Homo sapiens: one gene and its partners. The protein of the gene in region 4 interacts with the protein of the main gene of each other region in a pairwise test. Each region holds a gene or a part of one and is shown on either strand. Other genes may lie near its edges. The genes, in order: FAM124B, PECAM1, AP1M1 and PAK5.

Region 1 (4,806 bases), on a different chromosome or scaffold from region 4:
TTATAAAGTACATAATTAAGATAGTGCCAAGAACTCAATTTTAGCTATTATTGTTCATATTATGCCCTATACTAAGGATTCTCTTAAATTGATAATTTTATTTAATACTTATAACAACCTATGAAGTTACTATTTTTCCCATTTTGGAGATAAGAAAACTGAGCTTTCCAGGGGGTCAGTTATTTGCCCAAGATAGGAAGTATCTATCTACCCTCAAAGTTCATGTGGTCAGCCGCTGCAGTCCAGTGTATGTGTGTAAATGTGCAAGCAGGGGGATGAATGTCATGTTCACAGCAAAATATCCTGTGGCTTCTGTCCTTAAGAAATGGTCAGAAGCTCCTTAAGGCCTATTGAATAAAGTAATAAGAGACTACAAGATGAGATGTCTTTCCATTTGGTTAATTTTGTTGTCATCACTTTGACTTGTTAATAAAACATGAATCATATTCCATATTAAATGATTTCTAAATTATTCACCTTCTTGCTCACATAAGGTAGACAGGCACTGTTTCTGTTAGTTGCCTATTATAAAACCCCATAATTTCCAAGGCATCTAAAATTTCTTTCAGTTTTAGCGACTCTCTAGTACTTAAAATCAACCTCATGGTCAAACAAAAATGTAATGTGTGTGTGCAGCAAGGGACATGATTTTAATCATTCCTGTCTTTAAGGCTGACTGACATTTTTGCTATGGAACCACAGTTTAAACAACTTAGTTACTTTGGAAAGTTGAGTCACATTTGGGGAGTGTAGAAGAGTTTTTTGGATAAAGAGAAACTCCATGAATTGTATGAAAAGAGCCCTCTTCCTCTCTGGATTGTCCCAGGAGCCTGGCCACTTCTCAGGTGTGAATGGGGCATCAGCCCCTCACTCTTTTGTTTTTGAGACAGAGTCTCTCTCTGTTGCTCAGGCTGGAGTGCAATGGTGTGATCTCAGCTCACTGCAACCTCTGCCTCCCGGGTTCAAGCAATTCTTGTGCCTCAGCTTTCCCAAGTGGCTGAGACTACAGGTGCCTGCCAACATGCCCAGCTAATTTTTGTATTTTTAGTGGAGATGGGGTTTCACTATGTTGCCCAGGCTGGTCTCAAACATCTGGCCTCAAGTGACCACCTGCCTCAGCCTCCCAAAGTGCTGGGATTATAGGCATGAGCTACCACGCCCAGCTGCCTCTCACTCTTGATAGCCCCCTTGGACATCACCTTTGTCCTGACCTCCAAACCTCAGAGACTTCTGCTTCCTCACTCCAAAACACGCTTTGATCTCCTCTTGTTAAGTCAATGAGTCTAAGCTTTTGCAAACAGAGTGAGAGATCGCCTTCTGGAAAATTCTGCTTCTGGTGTCATATAATAAAAGTGCCTGAGGAAAGTGTGTAAAGGCTCAGCCATAATCCAAAGACAACACATTGTAGCTCCTAGATAGCTTTTGATTCTTTGAATGGAGTGAATTTTTCAGGATAGAAAATTCTTGGGCGTGGTGGCTCAGGCCTGTAATACTAGCACTTTGGGAGGCTGAGGCAGGTGGATCACTTGAGGCCAGGAGCTTGAGACCAGCCTGGCCAACATGGTAAATCCCCCTGTCTACTGAAAATACAAAAACTAGCTGGGCATGATGGTGTGCACCCGTAGTCCCAGCTACTCGGGAGGCTGAAGCAGGAGAATCGCTTGAACCAGGGAGGCAGAGGATGCAGTGAGCCGAGATTGTGCCAGTGAACTCCAGCCTAGATGACAGAGCAAGACTCTGTGTATTAGTCTGTTTCACACTGCTGATAAAGACAGGCTGGAGACTGGGAAATTTACAAAAGAAAGAGGTTTAATTGGACTCACAGTTCCACGTGGCTTGGGAAGCCTCACAATCATGCAGAAGGCAAGGAGGAGCAGTCGCATCTTACATGGATGGCGGCAGACAAAGAGAGCTTGTGCAGAAAACTCTTGTTTTTAAAACCATCAGATATTGGGAGACTCATTTACTATGAGTGAATTAATTCACTGTTCACTCATGCCTTAAATAGCACCCCAGTCACCTCTTGAATGCTTTGCTGCTTAAAAATTTCTTCTGCCAGATACCCTAAATCATCTCCCTCAAGTTCAAAGTTCCACAAATCTCTAGGGCAGGGGCAAAATGCCGCCAGTTTCTTTGCTAAAACATAATGAGAGTCACCTTTGTTCCAGTTCCCAATAAGCTCCTCATCTCCATCTAAGACCACCTCAGCCTAGACCTTATTGTTCATATCACTATCAGCATTTTTGTCAAAGTCATTCAACAAATCTCTAGGAAGTTCCAAACTTTCCCACATTTTCCTGTCTTCTGAGCCCTCCAGACTGTTCCAACCTCTGCCTGTTACCCAGTTCCAAAGTCGCTTCCACATTTTCAGGTATCTGTTCAGCAATGCCCCACTCTACTGATACCAATTTACTCTATTAGTTTGTTTTCACGCTGCTGATAAAGACATACCCGAGACTGGGCAATTTACAAAAGAAGAGGTTTAATGAACTCATAGTTCCATGTGGCTGGGGAGGCCTCAAAATCATGGCGGAAGGCAAAGAGGAGCAAGTCACATCTTACATGGATAGCAGTAGGTGGCAAAGAGAGGGCTTGTGCAGAGAACTCTCATCTTTAAAACCATCAGATCTCATGAGACTCATTCTCTATCACGAGAACAGCACAGGAAAGACCCACTCCCATAATTCAATCACCTCCCACTGGGTTCCTCCCACGACACATGGGAATTGTGGCAGTTATAATTCAATATGAAATTTGGGTGAGGACACAGCCAAACCATATCACTCTGTTTCGAAAAGAAGAAAAGAGGAGAGAAGAGAAGAAAAGAAAAGAAAATCCAGCCTAAACTTCCTTGGGTCCTGGGGAGAGGGGCTGGGTAGCGAGTCTGGCTTCTGTAAGTGAGTAGTCCAGGCCTTACACAGTGTGCTCAGGATCCAGATCCCAGCTCTGTTATCACTGTCTTGGCCCTATCCTCAGCCAGGCATCCGCCAGGGTCGCCAGCTGGCTGCTAGCAGCTCTGAGGGTTACATCCTTCATGTGGATTCCAAGTGCCTTGCCCCACCATGGCGCAACAAAATGTCTGGACTTCAGTTAGACCAACTAGGATCAGATTCTCTTCTCTAAATCAATTATTACGTGCAGGAAAGTGAGATTATATGGATCAGTTTAGCCCCGAGGCAAAGGCTCTGGCTTCTACCCCTAGATGCTGTGTGGTGTTCTGTGGGACTTTTAGGGAAGGTTGTGGGTCTCCAGAGAAGATCAGGGCGGAGGAGACAAATACAGAGTGGTCCCAAATGGCTGATGTTCAGCAAAAGTAAGAAAATTATACCTATTAAAGGAAGAACCATAACCACAAACTAACCTCTCTGCAGACCATCCCTCCACATGGCCAGGATGGAGGCGTGTGTGCAGAAGACCTGAGTGTGAGGGGAGCTAGGCCGAGGAGGGGCAGTGAGAAAGCTTTCCTGAGTAGCAATGCCCAGATCTGCGTGAGCTGGGTGGCCCAGGAGGAATTAGCCAGTTGGAGAAGGGAGCAAGGGTGTCTCAAACAGGTGACCGTGGGTGACGATGTTGGTGTGGTGCTGCTTAGCAGGCCATGCTCAGCAAACTTCCTGAGGTTTCATGTGGCTGGAGTGAAGGGAGGGGGAGTCAGGGGAAGAGGATGGGCAGGTGGCCTGAGGCTAGATCAGTGGGAATGTGGTCAGCCACTGGAATGTAAGTACCAAGAGCGGGGGGACTTTTTGGGCTCACTCCTGTGAACCTAGAACCTAAGGTCAGTGTCTGGCACATGGTAGGCAAAAACATCCTTCTACAAATGAACCCTGGCTAAGTAGCTTCTATTCTATCCTTGGTGAAATGAGCAGTCACTGATGAGTCCTATGAATGGAACTGACATGGATTATTTGTGTTATGAGGGTCAAATGAGAGAATGTACATGGTGGTGCTTGGTAAAGTAGAAGCTCCTGGAGACCATGTAACTGCGGTGCAATTGTGATCTGTGCATGTGAGAGGCTGTCAGCTGTCTCTGCCAGCGCGCCCAGTGAGCAATGCGTTTTCCACATGACCTCTTGCCATTGCAGACAGTCTGATGCCTCTCAGAGTCTAGAATGGGTGGTTTTGATGACAGCGATATGAGCATATCAAATAGATGTTCAGTAAATGAATGTATGAGTACATGAGAAGGCAAGTCCATGTTTATTCATTCCTCAGAACTTTGTTGAGTTCTTGCTCTGGGCCAGACATTGTTTTTCCTTTGGCAGTTTTAATTCTGCTGTCTCAATTCTTAGTGGGTGCAAAATGATAGTGGGTTCAACCTTCCCTTTATTCGTTCAAACAGTCCCTCTGCTTTTCTCCCTGTGCTTTTGCCTCTGGTGGTAGTGACAGTGTCAGTGTGTTCTGGGGGAAGGTAGCATGGGTGATGATGTCCGCCTCTTTTTTTAAACCTCCTGCAACTTAAACTGTGCCCTCAGTCAAATTAGCTATTTTGTCAAATCAACCACATGCTGCAGTATCTCTAGTCAACTACTGCTGGCTTTCAGCTTTCCACAGCTGAGACCCGTGTCCAAAGTTGTATTTTTTGTACTTTTTATAGATTTTTTTTCAATTTTTTGCATTATGGCTCTTCTCCCCTGATTCACCTGCTGATGCATTCATCTCCTGCCCTCCTCCTGGCAGGGGCAATCCAAGGGTAGAGTCCATGACTTTGGTGTCAGGCTCTGGCAGACTCTAAATTCCAGGTCACTGAGTTAGCATTGGTGATCTTCTCATTCTGTTTGATGTACAGTAGGCAAACTTTATAAATTAAAT
Region 2 (4,806 bases), on a different chromosome or scaffold from region 4:
GTGGCGTGAATAACAGCTGTGAATGAATAGTGACACTGGACTTAACTCTCCACCCATCACCCTCTCATTCATCTGCCTGGCATTTTCCTTACCTGAATACGTAAGCACTAGACATATTCCCAATAGGCCAGGCCCTTCCTTCCTTCCTTCCTTCCTTTCTTTCTTTGATGGAGTCTCACTCTGTCACCCAGTCTGGAGTGCAGTGGTGTGATCTCGGCTCACTGCAACCTCTGCCTCCCAGGTTCAAGCGATTCTCCTGCCTCAGCCTCCCAAGTAATTGGGATTACAGGTGTGTGCCACCACACCTGGCTAATTTTGTATTTTTAGTAGAGATGGGGTTTCACTGTGTTGGTCAGGCTGGTCTCGAACTCCTGACCTCAAGTGATCCACCTGCCTTGGCCTCCCAAAATGCTTCTTCATCTCGTCTCATAAATTAAAATTTCTTCTTCAAGACTCAACTCAATGATGTCTTCTCTTTCCAAAACAAAATGGGTCTACCCCAGGGTGCCAGTCAGTACAGCTCTGATGCTCTCTCTACATTCAATGGTATTTGTGTGTATAAAGGCCACAGCGGTGTGTTAAGACACCTCGTTCTGCAGTCACTCTGCCTGGGTTTCAATCTGGGCAAGTCCCTTAACAGCTCTAAACTTCAAAATCCTCACCAGTAAAAGGAAGATAACAACGATACCCATTTCAGGCAATTATTGAGAGGGTTAAAAGTGTCATGTGGGTAGAGTGCTTAGCAAAATTTCCAGCACCTAGTGAGTTCCTAATAAATAGAAATGTATTTATTTATTTTGAGACAGAGTCTTCCTCTGTCACCCAGGCTAAAGAGCAATGGCGCGACCTTGGCTCACTGCAACCTCTGTCTCCTGGGTTCAAGCGATTCTCCTGTCTCAGCCTCCCAAGCAACTGGGATTACAGGCACGCGCCACTGTGCCTGGCTAATTTTTTGTATTTTTAGTAAGGATGGGGTTTTACCATGTTGGCCAGCCTGGTCTCGAACTCCTAACTTCAAGTGATTTACCCACCTTGGCCTCCCAGAGTGTCAGGATTACAGGTGTGAGCCACCATGCCCGGTCCACAAATATTCTATTTCACTCAGTATTGCCATCCATTCTTACACATCTGTCTGCTCTTCTGGATAGTGAAATTGTAAAGACAGAGATGGTGTTTGGTTTATTCTTATATCTTGAACAATGAATGTGGCTCATAGTAGGCATTCAGTCAATGTTCATGGAATAAATTAAAGTCAGTCCTAGCCTGTGGCTGCATTCAATAAAGGGTAACAACAATCACAGTGACACTGACAAATACTGGCTACCTTTCCCCTCTAAGCATCATCTGTTGGGAATCTGATTGTGTCCTCTTCCCAATAGGATTATAAACCATTGAAAACACCAAGTACATCTTGACCATATTTTATTTTTTAAATTTATTTATTTATTTATTTATTTATTTATTTATTTTTAGACAGAGTCTCACTCTGTTGCCCAGGCTGGAGGGCAGTGGCACGATCTCAGCTCACTGCAACCTCTGCCTTCGGGGTTCAAGCAATTCTCCTGCCTCAGCCTCCCAAGTAGCTGGGATTACAGGTGCCTGCCACCATGCCCGGCTAATTTTTTGTATTTTTAATAGAGATGGGGTTTCGCCATGTTGGCCAGGCTGGTCTCAAACTCCTGACCTCAGGTGATCCACCTGCCTCAGCCTCCCAAAGTGTTGAGATTACAGATGTGAGCCACCTCGCGTGGCCTTAGTGGTGATTTTGGTGGACCCATCACCCGAGCAGTGTACACTGTACCCAGTGTGTAGTCTTTTATCCCTCGCTCCCTCCCACTCTTTCCCCTGAGTCCCCAAAGTCCACTGTATCATTCTTATGCCTTTGTTTCCTCATAGCTTAGCTCCCATTGAGCATATTTTATATTTTTTCCTTTCTTTTCTTCTCTTTTTTGAGACAGGGTCTCTGTTGCCCAGGCTGGAGTGCAGTGGTGGGATCACTGCTCACTGCCGCCTCAACCTCCTCGGCTCAGGTGATTCTCCCACCTCGGCCTCCCAAGTAGCTGGGACTACCAGTGCACACCACTAACTACCCCTGGCTAATTTTTAATTTTTTTTTTTGTAGAGATAGCATTTCACCGTGTTGCCCAGGCTGGTCTCCAACTCCTGGGCTCAAGAGATCCACCCACCTCAGCCTCCAGATTTTATATATTTCAAAGTGCCTAGTACTGTGCTGGGCACATACCTGTTCATTTATTACCTGGTAGGTCGCACTGGGTGTTCAGAGAACAAAAAAGAGCCCTCTCATGGGTCAACTACAGTCACTCAGCGGAGGGAGGCTTGTGTCTCTCAATCAGGCTGATACTGACAGACTTTCTCTTCAATCAGGCTGATACTGACAGACTTTCTCTTTCCCCGTAGGAGTGCCCAGTCCCAGGGTGACACTGGACAAGAAAGAGGCCATCCAAGGTGGGATCGTGAGGGTCAACTGTTCTGTCCCAGAGGAAAAGGCCCCAATACACTTCACAATTGAAAAACTTGAACTAAATGAAAAAATGGTCAAGCTGAAAAGAGAGAAGAATTCTCGAGACCAGAATTTTGTGATACTGGAATTCCCCGTTGAGGAACAGGACCGCGTTTTATCCTTCCGATGTCAAGCTAGGATCATTTCTGGGATCCATATGCAGACCTCAGAATCTACCAAGAGTGAACTGGTCACCGTGACGGGTCAGCATCCTGCTCCCTTCCTCATCGTTCTTTGTGGTTTCTGGTTTGGTATGGGGAGAAAGAACCCAGAACTGGGAAGGGGCTGCTGTTCTCAGGACTTAAGACCTGTTCTTAATCATTTTAAGCCAGTATTTTTCAAGCTTTTTTGACTGTTATACAGTTAAATTGCATACAATTTTTCAGACAAGAGTTTCACCAACAACACTTTACTCTTAATATATATGATGCTTTTTGTTTGTTTGGCTTGGTTTTTGGGGTTTTTTTTTTGAGACAGAGTCTCGCTCTGTCGCCCAAGCTGGAGTGCAGTGGTGCAATCTTGGCTCAGTGCAGCCTCTGCCTCCCGGGTTCAAGCAATTCTTATGCCTCAGCCTCTGGAGTAGCTGGGATTACAGGCATGCAGCACCACACCTGACTAATTTTTGTATCTTTAGTAGAGATGGGGTTTCGTCATGTTGGCCAGGCTGGTCTCAAACTCCTGATGTCAGGCGATCCACCCGCCTTGGCCTCCCATAGTGCTGGGATTACAGGCGTGAGCCACCACCCCAACCTTGTGTGTGTTTTTGAGACAGGGTCTTGCTCTGTTGCCTGAGCTGGAGTGCAGTGGCATGATTTCAGCTCACTGCAACCTCCGCCTCCCAGGTTCAAGCGATTCTCCTGCCTCAGCCTCCTGGGTAGCTGGGATTACAGGGGCATGCCACCATGCCTGGCTAAATTTGTATTTTTAGTATAGACAGGGTTTTACCATGTTGGCCAGGCTGGTCTCAAACTCCTAACCTCAGATGATCTACTCACCTCGGCCTCCTAAAGTGCTAGGATTACAGGCGTGAGCCACCGTGCCCAGCCTATTTCAGTCTTTAAACACTGGCCATGACACACTACACTGATGCATTATGTGATCTGTAGTTTGGAAGCCACTGCTTTAAGCCATCGAGGGTCAGACACCAGGAAGTTGGGTTTGGAGGGGATCGGGAGGAAAGAGGGGCCAGGTCCTCAGCCTTGGCCTCCTGTTGTTCAACGTAGATTTGCGTTGGACAAACAGCAAACAAATGAGGTGGCCTGGGAAATGCTCCCAGGAGAGAAGGAGGCAACAGCAGAGGGAAGCTGGGGAGTGTCCAGGACATACAGGGCTCTAGGACAGGTAGTCAGCCACTCCCAGGACCCGGTCTCATTTGCCAAGCCGGGAGAAGTCAGGGGAAGGCACACCCATGTAGATATTTGCAAATATTTCCAAAATAGGAAACTTACATTTTGTCATAAATGGTCCCCTTCTTTTGGCATCCCACTTTATCCTGCCCATTGTGTGTATGTGTGTCTGTATGTTCTATTATCTGATTATAAAATCATGTGTGCTCTGGGTAGAATTTTCAGACAAAAGAGCAGGATATAAAGTATGTATATAAAGTGACAATCATTTATAATGCCTCTACTTAGAGAAAACCACACATGATCCTCTAGACTTTTTCTACATATATTTATATATCATATACACACCCAGCCACACACACACACACACACACACACACAGAAAAAACATCTTTTGTTTTTACAAAAGATGGGGACCTATCACACTATTTTACAGCTTTTTAAAAACCAGACAAAATCTTATGGACTTTTGTCCATATGAAGAAATATAGATCTATCTCATTTTAGAACTCAGAACTTGACTGTAGGGATGGGCCATCTCTGCAACCCTCAAACTCCTGGGCTTGAGTGATTTACCTCATCTTCTGCTGATGGATATTTAGGTATTTTTCTCAGTGTTTGCTATTACAACAATCCTGCAGTATAGATATTTGTACTTGTAACTTGTGTACTTTGGCAACTATTTTACTATTATTATTTATGTGGTTAATTCTTAGTAGTCAAATTGTTGAATCAGATGTTTTGTGCATTTTCTTTTTTTTTTATTTATTTATTTATTTATTTATTTATTTATTTGAGACAGAGTTTCACTCTTGTTGCCCAGGCTCGAGTACAGTGGCGCAATCTCAGCTCACCGCAACCTCCGCCTCCCGGGTTCAAGCGATTCTCCTGCCTCAGCCTCCCGAGTAGTTGGGATTAGGCATGTGCCACCACGCCTGG
Region 3 (4,806 bases), on a different chromosome or scaffold from region 4:
CTCGGGCTCCTGGAGCCCCGGCCAGTGAGGGTCCCGAGCTCCTGAGCCTCCGCTTGCCCACTGAGCACCTCCTGCCACACACGCTGTTTCTGGTGCTGGACACGGCAGCGCGCAGCCCCACGTGGCTTCCCCCAGCAGGGAGAGAGAGAGAGAGACAAGCAGGCAGACGCAGGGAAGCTGTTGTGCACCATGGGATCAGGGAGCCGCTTGCGAGATGAGGACAGGACAGCACGAGGAGGTGAGGCTGGGGAAGGTGACAGAACCGGAGCCCTTGGGGCCATGTCCGGTTCCCTGCCCCTCCCAGGGCTGTCATTTGCTTGGCACCTCAGTTTTCCCAATTCCCTCAGAGGCGGCAAGCTGGTGAGGGGCTTTTGTTTGTCTACCCAGTGCTTTTTGGACATCATGCATAAGACTGCACAGACTCTCCTGCCACTCTGCAGACAGGAAATGCAGGCCCTGCACATGTTAGCCTGGCTGGAGCCAGCATCTGGGCCCAGGTATCCAAGTCGGTGGCCTTTGGCCCACTTGCTGGTGTGAGCATGGCCTCGTGCAGCATAGCAGTGTGCAGTGGTGGCCAGGGCTGCAGCCCCAGCGATTCTTCTGCCAGTCACTCTGTGCCCTCAGCACGGGGCCTCTGATCTGTGCCTGTTTCCTCACCTCTAAAATGGATGCAAGAAGAGATGCTCCAGCATCTTGGCTCACGCAGGACAGGCTAGGGGGTGCAGGACCGTCGCCCCGGTGTGGATTTTCAGTTGCACTTTCAGATGCATCTCGGCATGCGCAGTGGGTTACAGCCCCTCAGGTCATCTCCCCACAGTCCCTGCCCCAGAGGTTGTCGAGGCGTGTGTGGAGCAATGCCTGGCGCAGTGGAAATGCTGTCAGTGTTAGCCACTGTGACTGGATTTAAGTTGATTATTTTGGATCAAGTGTTATCACACTTCAGGGTGGCCCTGAGAAGCAAGAAGGGGTCAGGACTCAGGAAGCACCATCTCTCATAAGCCCTGGGGGGTGAGGGGCCAGTGGCCTCCCTGGGAGGCCAAGAGGAGAAACAGCTTTCAAGAAAAGCAAGTCTGGCCTGGTTCAAGAGACCCCAGCCCAGCCCAGCCCATCGGCTGAGCAGGGACCACAGGGTCCTGGCCCAGGTCCAGCCGAGCTCATGGACTCTCAAAGCTGACTCAGCGTGGGGACCAGCTGCCGGGCCGGCCCGGAGCATTCAGGGGGCTCCTGGGAGGGAGGGACTGGTACCTGATAGAGAACCCTCAGAGGGGGCTCCAGGCACGCATCATCAGGTCCCAGTGTGGCCTGAGGCCTAGAGGGCAGGACCCACAGTGTCCACCTCATGTCCACAGGGCCTCGGCATGAAGGCTGGAGGGGTGAGCCTGGGGACCCTCAGCCAGGCGTGGGTTGGTGTGGGTTAGGGGTAGACCTTAGCCACAGCTGGGACTCTCCCAGCTCAGGGGATGCCCAGGAGAGGGATGGGCTTGGAGGTGAGAAGGGCGTTGAGAGTGGGGTGGCCAGAGGGTCACATGATGTGGTAGGAGGCAGTGGCTGGTGAGTTGGGGACCTCCCCTCACGCCCACACCGCCACCCCCAGGTCAGCGCCAACGGCAATGTCCTGCGCAGCGAGATCGTGGGCTCCATCAAGATGCGAGTCTTCCTCTCGGGCATGCCCGAGCTGCGCCTGGGCCTCAACGACAAGGTCCTCTTTGACAACACGGGCCGTGAGTACCCTTGCCAAGGGCCCTGCCCATGAGGATGGCCTCACCAGGCACACACATTACAGCCTAGGGCAGGGTTGGGCCAGGCGGAGGAACGAGCTGGTTTCAAGCACTTGGTTGAGCAGCACTTCACACTGCTTGAGACAGCTGTGTAGAGTATTCATCCTTCCCTGGACATAGAAGGTGCAGGGGAGTGAAGATCCTCCAGTCCAGCTGGGAGGCCCCCGTCACCCGGCCTCACACGCCAGGTCCTGCACCCTGCCCTGCTCTGCCTGGGGCACTGGGGCCTAGGCTAAGGCCTTGCTCTCTCCCTCCCAGGCCAGGTTTCTCCCCTCACCTTGGGCCCTAGGTGTGGGCCGTGTGAAGGCCACGCATGGTGATTCTCGCTCCCGCCGCCTGGCCTCTAACACTTCCCACAGCAGGGCGGGGGCAGAGGGGCCCAGGGCCTGGTTTTGTGAACTGTGCCTCCCACTCAGCTGTCACAGGCCACTGGAAGAGGGTGCAGTGGCTGGGCATGCCCCCGTTCCTAGCCCGGTGAGGGCTTCTCGGGCATCAGTCTATCAGGGCAGCTCCCCGCCTGGGGCTGGGCAGGGCCCCACCCACATAGCCCTCAGTGAGGTGGCAAACCAAGGTAGGACCCAGGACCCCGTGGATGCCAGGGCCTGAGCCCTTGGGGAGCCCCGAGCCATCCCCCAGCCAAGTCCACTGATCAATCATTCAGTGAACGTGTCCTGAGCAGGTCCCCTGGCTGGGCCCTGGGATGGCCGCTGGGGACTCAGCATGAACCAGACCCACCAGCCCTGCCCCTGGGGACCCCAGGGGTGTGAGGAGTGATGGGGCAGTTGTCTTGGGACCCAGCCCCCTTGGTGTTTGTGGCCCAGGCTGCTCTCAGTGCGTGGACTGGGGGCCCTGCTCTGCCGGGGTGGGTTGCAGGTGGTAGGAGTACTGCTGAGATAGTGACCCGGAGGGCCCAGATCTGTCCTACCCTCACCCCTGACCCCAGGCGGCAAAAGCAAATCCGTGGAGCTGGAGGATGTGAAGTTCCACCAGTGTGTGCGGCTATCACGCTTCGAGAATGACCGCACCATCTCCTTCATCCCACCCGACGGCGAGTTCGAGCTCATGTCCTACCGTCTCAACACCCACGTGAGTGCGCCACCCTGGGGCTGGGCTGTCGGCAGACTCCTCCTCCCCTTCACCTCCAGGAGGTGAAGCCCAGGCAGGCGCCAGGGCCAGCCCCACCCCACGCTCCATGAGCTGCCTGGCTCTGCAGAGATGGAGTCTGAGGACTTGGGACTCCGAGCTTTCTGAGGGGCACAGACCCCTTTGGCCACCACCACCCCTTTCCCAGGCAGCCCCCAGAGCAGGCCCTGGTCATGTTTTCTGCATTTGCCCCAAGGCCTCCCCGGTAGCTCCCGGCTACCTCGGCCTGTCTGCCCTGGCCCTCCCTGACGCTGGCTGTACGCTCCCTGCAGGGCTCTGGGCCCACACCTGGGCAGATGGTCCCTTGCCCTGGGCCTTGGTTTCCCCTCTGAAATGGGCCTTTGTCAAACAAGGCCAGGTGTGAGCACCCTCTTTGCCCTCCTTGGCAGGTCAAGCCTTTGATATGGATCGAGTCGGTGATCGAGAAGCACTCCCACAGCCGCATCGAGTACATGATCAAGGTGCGTGGGCCGAGGCCACCCACTGAGGGCCTTCTGGTGTCTCTGGCCCGTCCCAGGAGCCTAACCGAGGGCTGGGGGTGCCGTAGGGCTGCCATCCGTGCACCCTCACTGTGGCCTCAGATGCAGGAGTGACCTGACACTGAGGGGACACCGCCTGGGGCCTGCTCCTAGATGGTGCCACTTGTGGGGAGGGGCCTGTAGCCAGGCATCCAGGACACTCCCAGAGGTGTTGCCCCCAGGTGGAGCACCTCTGCCCCTCAGCGACCCTGTCCAGCGCAGCCTGGCCCTGGGACATAGACATTGTCCTAGGAGGGCAGGGCAGAGGGAGGGATGAGGAGCCTTGGAAGCTGAGCAGACAGGAGGATGAAGATGAAACTCCTGAAATTAGGTCTTGGGAGAGTCTCGAGGGCAGGAGAAGGGGTGGGTAGTGCCTGGAGAAGTGGGGCCAGGGGCGGGGCTAGGGAGGATCCCCCGGGCCAGGCTGAGGGGCATGTGTCCTGGAGAGGCTGGCCAGCTCACCTTGGCCTCCATAACCCCGGGCCGCATTGGCCTGGCCTGCAGGCCAAAAGCCAGTTCAAGCGGCGGTCAACAGCCAACAACGTGGAGATCCACATTCCCGTGCCCAATGATGCCGACTCACCCAAGTTCAAGACGACGGTGGGGAGCGTTAAGTGGGTCCCCGAGAACAGCGAGATCGTGTGGTCCATCAAGTCCTTCCCGGTGAGCACTCTGTCCAGACATCCACGTGCCCCCTGCGCCTGTCTCTGCAAGGCAGCCTGGGTGCCTCAGGACCCCCTGCACCTCAAGATGGGGTGACAGTGGCCACTGTGTCTTCCACACCTGGGGCTTCTGAAAGGGTGGACGGAGAGCTGAGGACTGGAGTGGGAGGAAGCAGAGGCTGACTCGGCCCCTGGGCCCCTTTCTGCCTTCCTCTTGTTTGTGAACCAGCCTCTGTCTTCACCTCAGGGCAGTGCCCTCTCCCTCCCTCTCTGTGATGCCCCTGAGTACTGATGTGAGATGGGGCTCCTGTCCATGCAGGCCCTGAAGGAGCCCCGTCCACACTGGCAGGTCCAAGGCCCTTTCTGTGCAGGCTCAGCCTTGCCTGCCATCAAGGGGAACGGCTGCCTGTAGGCCGGAGCAGCACAGCCTCCAGAGCTCCGCACCAGCCGCCCATGTCCTGGGCCAGCTCTGCATCGGCGTGGCTTCCCTGACAACATGTTAAGGATTCTGAGGAGCTGAGTCTGGGCTTGCCGGGTGTACACAGTGCACAGAGAGGCTAGGCCCAGGCATGGCTCTGGAGCTGAGCCGGGTGGCACTGACCTGCTCCACCAGGGGGGCTCAGGGCAGGCGCTGCTTTCCATGTTCTCCCCTCTCTCTCCATCTGCATCCCAGGGGGACTTGGGGACAGCCCCAGCTGAGTTAAG
Region 4 (4,806 bases):
CCATGAATTCCTGATGACATTTTGTTTGAGTAACCTGCCTATTGTTCATAAAGAGAGGGAGTAGAAAATGTGCAAGAGTATAATTTCTGTCCAAAAGGAAAAACTTTTAGTTGATACACTGTGATACAAACAAACTGTTTCTGTTTTCTTTTAAAAAACAGTGCAAGACATTATTGAATAGGAAAGGAGGCCAGAAGTTTAAATCCATAGAAGGAAGCAGAACAGATGTCTAAGAGGGCTTGAAGGCCACCCTGAGGAAATAGAGAAGTGGTAAACAAGGCCAGGCGCTGTGGCTCACGCCTGTAATCCCAGCACTTTGGGAGGCCAAGGCGGGTGGATCACGAGGTCAGGAGTTTGAGACCAGCCTGACCAACATGGTGAAACCCTGTCTCTACTAAAAATACAAAAACTAGCCAGGCGTGGTGGTGAGTGCCTGTAATCCCAGCTACTGGGGAGGCTGAGGCAGGAGAATTACTTGAACCCGGGAGGCGGAGGTTGTAGTGAGCCAAGATCATGCCACTACACTCCAGCTTGGGTGACAGAGCAAGACTCTTTCTCAAAAAATAAAATAAAATAAAATAAAATAAGTGGTAAACAGGGAAGATACAACTGAAATGAAATAGGAAGCTGCTGAAAGAGACTTGATATTTTTAAGGCTGAGTTATAGCTGTTTCATCTTTCCTCTGCCAAGGCTGCTCATCTTTTACTCTTCACAGTTATTGTTTCTCCCAAGTTAATCTGTGGGGTGAGGATGGATGTTGTTCCTCTGAGGAAAGGTCCCAGGTTATATACATGATTCTTTCTTTCTCTAAGGGAGGCTCCAACAGAGCATCCCCTACTTTGGCAATCAATCCATCAATTTATGCACCACCCTCAACAATGACTACATTCCATATAATGAATTCCACACTATGGAATAAAAAAGGAATAGGCAAAAAAAAGACTAGGATATTAGTTTATGAACACTGACTATATTATGCTCAGTGAAAGAAGTCAAGCTGAAAGGCTCCAGACTGTATGATTCCATCCATATGATATTCTGGAATAGACAAAACAATAAGGACAGAAAACAGATCAGTGATATCAAGGGTTTGGGGAGAGGGTAATGTTTGACTAGAGGAAACTCAGGAGATATTTTTGCAGCTGGTGGCACTAATTTGTATGGCACTCTAACAGTGAATACATGATGCTTTGCACTTGTCAATACCCATAGAGCTTTGCAGCACAAAGAGTTAATTAATGTACGTAGTTTCAAAAAACAACAAAAAATAAACCAGAAGATCAGAGGATCCTGGGATAGAATGCAGAATGTGACCAAAGAATCCAACAGCTATACATTTATAACATAACCTCATTGAAGGGGGTGCAGGAAAAAAGACACTAACTTAAGGAACTTTGGAAACAGTGCTTTGAATGCAAACTATAAGTGTAAAGGAATTTTAAAGAACTGGACTTAAACATGGTACTTGAGTTGACAAAGTTGTTTCTCATGGTAGAGTGAGTTAATCTGAAACTGCTGAACAGTTATACTAGCACTGAATAGGCAAATGACTGGCAGATGGTGGGGCCCATGTTTTTTACTGTTGCAGAGGAAGTTACAGGTAAGGAAATGGCAAGAATGAATTATGTGGTACTTGATTAGATTCAGAGACATTAATGTGGATTTATGTTTAGGTTAATATAGATACAGATGGATGGATATAATTATAGGTGTGTGAGTGTGTTCATGAGTTAGTCTACAAACATATTATTTCGGAGCTCTGTTTGCTGAGGCCTGGCAATGACACCCAGTAGCAATGAGTATTCCTGGAACCAAATCTTAATTTCTAATACTATTAGCGTTCCTTGGAGAAATGCCTGATTTGGGGGGAAGGGCAGGGAAAATAAAAGATAAACCTGGAGCTTCTTGTAGGGACAGAAAGTAAGGAAGTGCTCAAAAAATAAAAGGAAGAGGGATCATCAAAGGGACACAGCAGCCAGCCTGAGAGAACTCCCAGTGACAAAAGCTGGAACCATTTGAGCAACAAGGCAAATAACAGAGTGTTGGCTTATAACCCAAAGTATAAAATAAATAACCATAAGTCCATCCATCCTTATATATAAATAAATGATTGAATGAGTAGGTAAATGGGAGCAAATAAGCAAGTCTCCTGTGCAGAAGAATTCCAACTACTTTATATAGATACCCTACCCCCACCACACACACACACCCAAGAAGATAAAGCTTAAATCCCTGACCCTTGAGTAGACGCTACACTTACTGACTTGTTCCCAAAGAATACAATATACAGAAAGCTAGGGAAGGGGAGTGTGACTGTGTGTATAAGAAACCTGGAAAATATGACCTCACCCAGGTAGTCAGGGCTAACATCATCATTCCTAAGTCGTGTCGACGATATGTACCCTAAACATTATGCGATGAAATGTGACTTGACTCTCTGATCTTCCTCCTCAAACCAAATAACCTCTGTTTAAACATGGGAAAAACACCAGAAAACCCCAATGGAGGAACATTCTCCAAAATACCTCACCAGTACTCCTCAAAACTGTCAAGGTCATCAAAAAATAAGGAAAATCTGAGAAACTGTCACAGATCAGAGGAAACTCGGAAGATATAACAAATAAATGTAATGAACTATCCTGGATGGGACTCTAGAACCCTAGGAGAAAATTAATGAAATCTATAGGAACATGGAGTTTCCTTAATAGCAATGCAAGATATTAACTCAAGGGGAAACTGGATGAGAAGTCTATGAGAACTCTGTATTCTCTTTGCAACTTCTCTGTTAATCTAAAACTATTCTAGAATAAAAATTTTATTTGAAAGAAAAGGGTATAGTACAAAACTATTAGTCCAGGACTCTTGGAAAGAAAAAAAATAAACCCTTTGTTTCACCATGGATAGATCTATAAAACATCAGCTCCAGGACAACTTTGACTTCTTCCTCCAGTTTGAAATCTTCTATTGTACCATCCAAGATAGTTTTGAACTCCTTGCTACTTGCTCAAAAGTATTTTTCTCCTAAAATCCTGGAAGTCTGAAGTCACAACACTTTGTTCTTTGTTCTTTTATCCACCCCCATCATATTTGCCTGCAAATCCTGTCATTGTCAAGGCACGGCTGACGGGCTTTGTAAGTGGTTTGCGATGTCTTTCAGTTCCTGGTATTCTTGTGTTATTTAGGTTCATTAAAGGGAACAATTTGTCACTAAGATCCAGGTGCAACCATCATTACTAAGCCATCCAAAATTCAGCGGTGATGTTACACAGAAGTGTGGCCATAACAAACAAGCAGTATAGTATAAGTATATATACTTAATAAGAATATCACATTTGATCATAAATCACACAAATAATCTTCAGTCTGTTTCCTAATTACAGTTTCAGGAAGTGCCTGCCTCATCCATAAAATTTCATAACCTCAGTTATTATGTCTTCCATATAAGGGCAAAAAATGTACACCCATTTCTAGTTATGTTAATAGTTGGGTGATAATGCCTTCTGGTTTTGAAAATCATCTGAATAATGAATGTAAAACAGTAATAAATATTATTTTTTATTACCAAACAGTTATAGAGTGTTAAATTATAATTATCAGCTCATCATTAGGTGGTTAGGGCTTATTATTTAGGTAGAAGAAGTAGGGGGAAGGGATTTGCCTGTAAACTGGTAAATAAAACAGTTATATTCTATGTAGTCTCCTACATGGCTTTTTGATGGTTATTTGATGTCTCTGTTGAGATAGGTAAGAAGAAAAATGCAATTTGAGATTGTTTACTATTTGATTTATTTCACCACTGAAGTCAATCAACACATTTTCTTTATCATTTTGTGTTAAGTGTTCCCGGGGTCTTTTTTCTTCTGTAGTTTAATTTGGATGGAGTGGGGGTGGGATGCCACCATCAATTTAAATCCATGAAATATTTTCTTTAAACAATATTCCCTCTATTATTCCCAGACAATCGTTAGAGGAAACAAACCCTGCAAGGAAACCTCCATCAACGGCCTGCTAGAGGATTTTGACAACATCTCGGTGACTCGCTCCAACTCCCTAAGGAAAGAAAGCCCACCCACCCCAGATCAGGGAGCCTCCAGCCACGGTCCAGGCCACGCGGAAGAAAATGGCTTCATCACCTTCTCCCAGTATTCCAGCGAATCCGATACTACTGCTGACTACACGACCGAAAAGTACAGGGAGAAGAGTCTCTATGGAGATGATCTGGATCCGTATTATAGAGGCAGCCACGCAGCCAAGCAAAATGGGCACGTAATGAAAATGAAGCACGGGGAGGCCTACTATTCTGAGGTGAAGCCTTTGAAATCCGATTTTGCCAGATTTTCTGCCGATTATCACTCACATTTGGACTCACTGAGCAAACCAAGTGAATACAGTGACCTCAAGTGGGAGTATCAGAGAGCCTCGAGTAGCTCCCCTCTGGATTATTCATTCCAATTCACACCTTCTAGAACTGCAGGGACCAGCGGGTGCTCCAAGGAGAGCCTGGCGTACAGTGAAAGTGAATGGGGACCCAGCCTGGATGACTATGACAGGAGGCCAAAGTCTTCGTACCTGAATCAGACAAGCCCTCAGCCCACCATGCGGCAGAGGTCCAGGTCAGGCTCGGGACTCCAGGAACCGATGATGCCATTTGGAGCAAGTGCATTTAAAACCCATCCCCAAGGACACTCCTACAACTCCTACACCTACCCTCGCTTGTCCGAGCCCACAATGTGCATTCCAAAGGTAACGTTTGCTACCTCCTTTCCCTCACGTGTGCAAAAACCTCCACAGGGGTGGTGCTGGCA

Evidence for each region.
Region 1: the proteins of PAK5 (region 4) and FAM124B interact in a two-hybrid assay, tested with the Homo sapiens proteins (one large-scale study listed by IntAct).
Region 2: the proteins of PAK5 (region 4) and PECAM1 interact in binary tests that used the Homo sapiens proteins (3 or more experiments, as listed by UniProt).
Region 3: the proteins of PAK5 (region 4) and AP1M1 interact in a two-hybrid assay, tested with the Homo sapiens proteins (one large-scale study listed by IntAct).

Annotation. Positions count from the first base shown.
Region 1 is NC_000002.12:224,395,054-224,399,859, reverse strand, and holds part of FAM124B (protein FAM124B), read left to right. Parts: intron 1-4,806.
Region 2 is NC_000017.11:64,372,969-64,377,774, reverse strand, and holds part of PECAM1 (platelet endothelial cell adhesion molecule precursor), read left to right. Parts: intron 1-2,418; coding exon 2,419-2,724; intron 2,725-4,806. UniProt on the Homo sapiens protein: Cell adhesion molecule which is required for leukocyte transendothelial migration (TEM) under most inflammatory conditions.
Region 3 is NC_000019.10:16,224,827-16,229,632, forward strand, and holds part of AP1M1 (AP-1 complex subunit mu-1), read left to right. Parts: intron 1-1,594; coding exon 1,595-1,721; intron 1,722-2,721; coding exon 2,722-2,864; intron 2,865-3,310; coding exon 3,311-3,382; intron 3,383-3,943; coding exon 3,944-4,102; intron 4,103-4,806. UniProt on the Homo sapiens protein: Subunit of clathrin-associated adaptor protein complex 1 that plays a role in protein sorting in the trans-Golgi network (TGN) and endosomes.
Region 4 is NC_000020.11:9,580,083-9,584,888, reverse strand, and holds part of PAK5 (serine/threonine-protein kinase PAK 5), read left to right. Parts: intron 1-3,958; coding exon 3,959-4,744; intron 4,745-4,806.